2 linked regions of the Homo sapiens genome follow. The protein of the gene in region 1 interacts with the protein of each later gene in a pairwise test. Each region holds a gene or a part of one and is shown in the gene's direction. Other genes may lie near its edges.

The links. The genes of interacting proteins can lie anywhere in the genome.
Region 2: the proteins of PPP1CB (region 1) and PHACTR3 interact in binary tests that used the Homo sapiens proteins (3 or more experiments, as listed by UniProt).

What each region holds. Positions count from the first base shown.
Region 1 is NC_000002.12:28,785,716-28,790,742, forward strand, and holds part of PPP1CB (serine/threonine-protein phosphatase PP1-beta catalytic subunit), read left to right. Parts: intron 1-2,942; coding exon 2,943-3,094; intron 3,095-5,027. UniProt on the Homo sapiens protein: Protein phosphatase that associates with over 200 regulatory proteins to form highly specific holoenzymes which dephosphorylate hundreds of biological targets.
Region 2 is NC_000020.11:59,838,529-59,842,039, forward strand, and holds part of PHACTR3 (phosphatase and actin regulator 3), read left to right. Parts: intron 1-1,840; coding exon 1,841-1,902; intron 1,903-2,866; coding exon 2,867-3,007; intron 3,008-3,511.

The sequences.
Region 1 (5,027 bases):
GGAGGATCACTTCAGCCTGGGAAGTTGAGGCTGCGGTGACCTGTGATTGTGCTCCTGCATTCTAGCCTGGGTGACACAGTGAGACCCTCTCTTTCAAAAAACACCCAAAGTGCTATTTTTAAAATAAGGTATAATATAAATATGTATTACTGGTCATTCTTCAGAATATCTGTTTATAGTTCAGATGTAAACTGATCTAGTGTGATATGCTAGGCTTCTGTTTTTAGCATGTTTTATTTATTTTAGCGTATTTTAATGAGAAGTTTTCAAGATGCTGAAAACAGTTATTTTGATCTTTGATAGTGTCTGCAACATTCAGAAATTTAATTTATAAGTTAATACATTATTTGAAGCAGCCTAGTTGATTGTGATGCTAGCTCATTAAACAATAAATCTTGACTCTGAAATTCTTTTTGAGACAGAATTTCACTCTTGTCGCCCAGGCTGGAGTGCAATGGCCTGATCTCGGCTCACTGCAACCTCCACCTCCCAGGTTCAAGCAGTTCTCTTGCTTCAGCCTCCCAAGTAGCTAGAATAACAGGTTCCTGCCACTGTGCCCAGCTAATTTTTGTATGTTTAATAGAGACAGGGTTTCACCATGTTGGCCAGGCTGGTCTTGAACTCCTGACCTCTGGTGATCCGCCCACCTCGGCCTCCCAAAGTGCTGGGATTACAGGCGTGAGCCACCATACCTGGCCTGAAATTCTTATCTAGACCCTGTTAAGGTTAAAGAATTCCAGATTGTTGTTGCTACCATTATTTGATTTTTTTAATGCATCCAGAGTGTCATGTTTCCTAAACCTCAAACTCTATTCTAATTTTATACAGTTTTATTGTCTCACTGAAATTATAGATTCTTGAGATCGAGACCATCCTGGCTAACACGGTGAAACCCCATCTCTACTAAAAATTCGCTGGGTGTGGCAGTGGGCGCCTGTAGTCCCAGCTACTCGGGAGGCTGAGGCAGGAGAATGGCATGAACCCGGGAGGTGGAGCTTGCAGTGAGCCGAGATCGTGCCACTGCACTCCAGCCTGGGTAACAGAGCGAGACTCCGTCTCAAAAAAAAAAAAAAAAAAAAAGAAATTATAGATTCTTAATACCTTAGCTTTCTACTGGAAAGAGGCTGGAAAGTATGAAAGCATTATTAAGCACTGGGTGGGTGTATATTTTCGAAGAGTCAGCTTCAACCAGAAAGGGCTTAAGAATTGAGACTGACTATTCCAGTGGATTTTGTGTGCTAGTGAATTTCTTAAAACAACATACAGGGAGCTTGGGATATATCAATGATAGAGATTGAATACATTGCCACTAATTCTACAAATGGTTTTATAATGCCTCTATCAAGATATGATGTACTGTAACTGAAAATGAAGATGCCCTTTCCTCCTAAACCATACTATGATGTTTATGGATTATTTAAAATTCTTAAAACTGACTTAACTCTTTAAAAATTATCTTCTTGGCTGGGCGCGGTGGCTCACACTTGTAATCCCAGCACTCTGGGAGGCCGAAGCGGGCGGATCACGAGGTTAGGAGATCGAGACCATCCTGGCTAACACAGTGAAACCCCATCTCTACTAAAAATACAAAAAATTAGCCGGGCGTGGTAGCGGGCACCTGTAGTCCCAGCTACTCGGGAGGCTGAGGCAGGAGAATGGCGTGAACCCGGGAGGCAGAGTTTGCAGTGAGCAGAGATTGCACCACTGCATCCCAGCCTGGGCAACAGAGCGAGACTCCGTCTCAAAAAAATATATATGTATCTTCTCTTAGCCACTGCAATTCTTAGAAAATCACCATCACCATCTCAACATCCACCCTTCTTTTAATATCACTACAGTTGGACTTTTACCCACTCCGTTACCCTCAATCACCAAGAAACTTGCATTGAGGTCTGATGATTTAATTGTAAGTGGCACATTTTTGGTCTTCGTCCTACTGCCCTTGTTCATGGCACATTTCCTACTTTAGGACGATTGTTTCCCCTTTCGGGATACGTTTACTATACTAAGCCCTTTGTCTTGATCATTCCTTCTCAATACCTAATGTTCATTCTCCCTCATCTACCTGCCTATTAAATGTTTGAATTCCTCAGAATTCATTTGCTGGTCTTCTCACTTTGTATTCCTAAGGTGGTCTGAGTCCCTCTTAAGATTTCCACTACCATTAATATGATGACAATACTCAAGTAAATATTTTTAACCCTGACCTCTTTTCCAGGGCTCCAAACATTACCAAAGTCAAGGATCTGATCTGATTTTGTTCTTCCACATTTAAAAAAAAATCCTCAGGGTCTCAGTAGAAAATGTTTTTTTTTCGCTCAAGTGATCTGTAGATCAAATACAATTCCAGTGAAATCACAATTGAGTTTTTTATGGAATTAGGCAATTGTTTTTAATGTTTATGTGGAAGAACAAAAGATCAAAAAGTAACCAAGACAATCCTGAAAAAAAAATGGAGGATACTAGCCCTACCAAATATAAAGACTTATTAAAAAGCTCTAGTCTGTTATTGGCTCAGGGATAAGTAAAATAGACTAACAGAATAGACTGTGGTGCTCAGAAACAGTGGAACCGTAAGGAAAGGATGAACTGTTGAGGAAATACCACTGGGTTGTTTGGTTATTCATATGGAGAAACTACCCAAAAGATGAACAGCCTTTTCCATGTATTGTTGTGCTGTAAGTGCCATGCACATATTTCCTATATGTGGAAAGGGTTGGAAAGTACTACCTTAAGAGGCCATGGAAGATTATATTTGTATGGTTTGTATGGTTGCTTTAACAAAAGTATAAGTTACATAGGCTGGAATACTTAGGCAAGTGATGGTCATTGTTTAGTAAAAGGTAAGAGGGCAAGAAAGGAACTGAAATTTGATGTAGATGTGCTATATTCTATAAATCTGTAAATTTTGTTCTTAATTGCTGTATTTCTGTCCTTTAAAGGTTTGCTCTGTGATTTGCTATGGTCTGATCCAGATAAGGATGTGCAAGGCTGGGGAGAAAATGATCGTGGTGTTTCCTTTACTTTTGGAGCTGATGTAGTCAGTAAATTTCTGAATCGTCATGATTTAGATTTGATTTGTCGAGCTCATCAGGTATGAAATATAAAACTCTTAAGCTTTTTCTTTTTTCTTTCTTTTTTTTGGGGGCAGACGGAGGGGCAGACAGATTCTTGTTCTGTCACCCAGGCTGGAGTGCAATGGCGCAATCTCTGCTCACTGCAACCTGTGCCTCCCGGGTTCAGGCAGTTCTTGTGCCTCAGCCTCCCAAGTAGCTGGGACGATAGCCGTGTGCCACCACACCTGGACTCTTAAACATTTATTATTTGTTAACTTCACATAAGCCCTCTCATTTTGTTTTGAGGAAACATATCCAAGAAAGCTAAATGAGTTGTACAAGGAAAGCAGTAGGAGAGGTGGCAGAGCCAGTTCCTGGATCTCACACTTAACAATCTAGTGATTTGTTAACCTTTTATCACCCTAAAAGAGGAAATGTTTAGAAATATTTTGGGGCTGGGCATGGTGGCTCACATCTATAATCCCAGCACTTTGGCAAGCTGAGATGGGTGGATTGCTTAAGTACAGGAGTTTGAGACCAGCCTGGGCAACAAAATGAGATTCCATCTCTACAAAAAAAATCAAAAATTTAGCTGGGTGTGGTGGTGCGTGCCTGTGGTCCCAGCTACGTGGGAGGCTGAGGTGGGAGGATCGCTTGAGCCTAGGAGATCAAGGCTGCAGTGAGCCATGTTTATGTCACTGCTCTCCAGCCCTTGTGAAAGAGCTAGACCCAGTCTCAAAAAAAAGAATGTATTTTTGTAGTATACAGCAAACCTAACAAAATTTTCAGTGCTTCTTTGAAGCTTTGTAGATATGATTTAGATTTTTTTTTTTTTTTTTTTTTTTGAGATGGAGTCTCACTCTGTCACCCAGGCTGGAGTGCAGTGGCACAATCTCTGCTCACTGTAACCTCCGCCTCCCAGGCTCAAGCGATTCTTCTGCCTCAGCCTCCGGAGCAGCTGGGATTACAGGCACGCACCACCACGCCTGGCTCATTTTTGTATTTTTAGTAGAGACAGGGTTTCACCATGTTGGCCAGGCTGCCCTTGAACTCCTGAGCTCAAGTGATCTGCGCCTCAGCCTCCCAAAGTGCTGAGATGACAGGCGTGAGCGTGAACCACTGTGCCCAGCCTCATTTTTATATAATCTTTGTGCATAATGGCGATTTTGATAAGAGCAAACCACACTTTAAAAAAGTATTTTTGAGACCATTGAAGAATTTGATTGTGGCTCAGTGCAGTGGCTCATGTCTGTAATTCCAGCACTTTGGGAGGCTGAGGCAGGCAGATCCTTTGAGCCCCAGGAGCTGGAGACCAGGCTGGGCAACATGACAAAACTCTGTCTCCACAGAAGATACAAAACAGCCAGATGTGGTGGTGTGCACCTGTAGTCCCAGCTTGCTTGGGAGGCTGTGGCAGGAAAGTCGCTTGAGCTCAGGAGGCAGAGGTTGCAGTGAGTGTAGATCGTACCATTTCACTCCTGCCTGTGCAATGGGTGTGAAACTCAGTCTCAAAAAAAGAGAACATTTGATTGTAGACTTGGTAATAGGTATGAATTATTTAATCTTTTAATTTTTTGTTTTTGTTTGAGGCCGAGTCTCACTCTGTCACCTAGGCTGGAGTGCAGTGGCATGATCTCGGCTCACTGCAACTTCCGCCTCCCAGGTTCAAGTGATTCTCCTGCCTCAGCCTCCCGAGTAGCTGGGACTACAGGCGCCTGCCACCACGCCTGGCTAATTTTTGTATTTTTAGTAGAGACGGGGTTTCACTATACTGGCCAGGCTGATCTCAAACTCCTGACCCCAGGTGATCTGCCCACCTCAGCCTCCCAAAGTGCTGGGATTACAGGTGTGAGCCACTGCTCCTGGCCGGTATCAATTATTTTAGCTGTTTCATAATCATTAATTGTTATGTAAGAAGAATGTCTGTGTTTTTCCAGGAATGCATACTTGAGTGTGTAGAGGTAAAATGAC
Region 2 (3,511 bases), on another chromosome or scaffold:
AGGGACTATATTCAGTACTTGGTATATATTCCCTCATTTAATCATTGCAACATATTTGTGAGGTTTGCACTTTTTAATAAATGAATATTGGGAAAAGGATAGCACTAGAGTTCAACCCCAGGTCTGCCTAACTCCATTGCCCATCTTCTTAACTACTGCATCAGAAGCAGTAATACATTTCTGGATATTCATGGAAGTCTCAGGTATAACTGTCCAAGCTGCTGGAGCTATTTCCAGAAAATATGAGTATAGCAGTCCTGATTATGGGTCCCTTGCTTTGTATAATGCAGAGGGTGTTCTGGGTCTGGAAATAAGAAATCCATAAACATATCACTAAGGGGAGCTCAGAAGGGGAGGTCTGTGGGCTTAGGCTAACAGGGAGGACTTCTTGGAGGAGGTCTCCAACAGAGCGCCTGGCACAAAGCAGCACTCTGACAGGAACTTTCAAAGATCAGTTCTCCAAAGACCCTGCTGGTGACCTTCGTAGTAATTATGGCATTTTTCAGGATTAAAAAAAAAAAAAAGATCTGACTTTGTTTCAATCTTTTCACATGGAAGCTGCACTTGGGAGCTGCCCATGGCCTATTTTAAAGAAATCTGAAACATTTTACGTCACGTAAATCCCTCATGGCTTGCCTTGTCTGGACACTTTCACAATGTCTCTCTAATTGTATCAGCTTTCTGATGATACCTTAAAAGTATGGTTTCTTCTGGTTTCTCACTTGTATAAAGAATTAAGCAGAAAGAGGATTTCATTACCTTTTCTAAAACACCCTAATCCAAGATGACTCACTTAAAAAAAATTACTGGAAAGCACAATATATTAAACTCTCATATAACCAATCCCACAAATGTATAAATATTTGAAACGCATCTTTTACATAAAGGCAGATAATGTGAAATTGTGTTAATTGCAAGTGGCAGGATTTCCCTTACCAAAACCTACCAGTGTTTCTAGGAGTGCTGATTGTTGAAATCTCTTTCCTAGGAATGGAGCTATGTTCAGGTCAGGGACATAAGGCTTTATTTAGCAACAGAGAACACCAGAAATAGGACAGCCATTATCTTGTATCCCAGGGGGAAGCTTACGTTTTATACTATATCTCAGCACTTTCGTCTATTTTTGGCTTCCAAGGGTAGGTGCGAGCACAGCTTGAATGTTAATAGTCACAACTTACCAAGCAAAGCTAATTTTGCTGAGGGACTTGGGCTCCTTTAAAAGGCACTGTCATATAACAGTGTTCACGCTTCAGCAATGGAGAGTCAGCGAGGTTCATAGATGTGTTAAGATTTGAAATATAGTCTGAACATATAAATTCCAGGCAAGCATATGCTGCCCAGGAGCTGAAGAAGGTGTTCCATGTTTTATGTTGGTTAAAAAGTCTGTACGCTTATTAAGGAAAAAAATTAGTGGCAGTGCTATTTATATTGAAATGTACATATACATTTATTTACTTAGTCTACTACAGCTTTTTTTATGTGGCATCTAAGTGCTAGATGTAAATATAAAGATATTTGGGGAGAAAGACAGACACAGAGGTGTCTACTTCCTTAAACAAACAGCAGCCATATCTGTGGTTGTTTCTAATGCACAGAAGGGCTGAGGAGACCAGGTTGGGATGACAGCAAAGCTTTGCTTAGTACAAGTATTTCTGTGTAATGAGACCATGATCTCCTGAGCAGTGACTGACAAAGTGGGAAGAAAACACCATGAGTGATGTGGAATTAACTTCAGCTCCCAGAAATATGGATATCTTGGGAACACTTCCCTGCTGAAGAGAAGAACGTTTCAACCTGTTTCTCTTTGTTATTTTTTTTTTCCTATTTTAATCTTTCACAGAAAGGAATGATCAGACAGAGCAGGAAGAAAGAAGAGAAATCAAGCAAAGATTGACAAGAAAGGTAGTATAAGCATTTTATTGCCTGAATAATAAAAGGTGGTCTAGAGAACAGCTGCTTCGGTAGCAGGTGGGATGGGTAATGCTAGGTATCACTCTGTGATCATGAATAATGTTCTCCTGGACATCATGGCATCAGTTAAATCAGGATATTTGCTCAGCAACAATGAATTAACTCCCTCTGACGTTCCCTATGGACGAAGTCCTTCCCTAGCACGGTAGCACTTGGAGAGGTGCACAATGCACATGACATTTTTTACTTATGTTCAGGTGGAAGCCAGAAGTTGATTGGCATTTTCTTAATTTACAGTGTCTAGGAAAAGCATACCTGGGTATCAGTGTTTTAGTCACATTTTACACTCATCGCTTTTGTTCACCTCCAATATGTCTAGAAGTTCCTCAGTTGCAGAAAGCTTTATTAGACTCAAAGGTTTGTTCTCTGTGACTCAAACAGTTAACATTTACTATGGCCAATACAGGTAGCAACTCTATAAATCTTAATCTACTTTTAAAGCCTTGACCATTTCTAAATTCAAGTGTTCTGGATTCCCCTTCTTCGTTGTGCTGCTCCATAATAATTCTCTTGAAATTAACAGAATATCCTTCCTAAGCTGGACATATAATAACTTTATTAGTACTTTTAAAAAGCTTATCTAATTGTATCTGAAGCCAGTGATGCCATAAAATCTAAGTTAATTCACTAACCATTCCTTGAGCTGGTGCTATGTACTACTGGGGGTGTGACTCCTTCTGATAAAATATGTTGGAGGAAGGGGGATTGTGATTTAAGAGTACAGTATATAATTTCAGCCCTTCACATTAGAGATTGCTTGTATTTGGGTTATATTTTCCAGTTTCAGGTTTTTTTTGTTTTGTTTTGTTTTTTAAGAGAAGTGCTGTTTGTTCAGAGTACTTCAAAAAAGCTAGTTTGGCATGTGATACTTAACTATGATGATCTTTAATTTTAGCTTAATCAGAGACCCACTGTTGATGAATTAAGAGACAGAAAAATTCTGATACGATTCAGTGATTACGTGGAAGTAGCAAAAGCGCAGGACTATGACAGGAGGGCAGACAAACCCTGGACGAGACTGTCAGCAGCAGATAAGGTACCTAACTGCCTGTGCTGGTGGGGGGTGTTGGATGATATAATAAAGGCAAAATATGTCATGCCAGGGAGTTTATTCATAGACAATGGGAGCCCTCAACTATTTAAGGGTATACTGCAGTAAATATTGGTTTCTCAAAGATAATTCAGGGTCAGATTGAGAAGTGGTTCTCAGCTAGGTGACAGTTTTGCCCCGAGGGACATTTGGCAATGTCTAGAGACATTTTTGATTGTCACAACTCGGGATGCTACTGGCATCTCCTGGTAGAGGCCAGGGACACTGCTCAGCATCTCACAATGCACATAACAGCCCCCACAACAAAGGATTATCTAGTACCAAATGTCAAGACTGTGGAAATTGAGAAACCTTGGTATAAGGGATAAATCAAAGGTGGGCAAGGCTGCCATAAGAGATCAACTGACAAGTTTAAACAAAAAGAGCTACAGTGGGGACAAAGAGGCATTCAAGAAAGCCTCTACAGTATAGAAAAGGTTCTAGATTCTC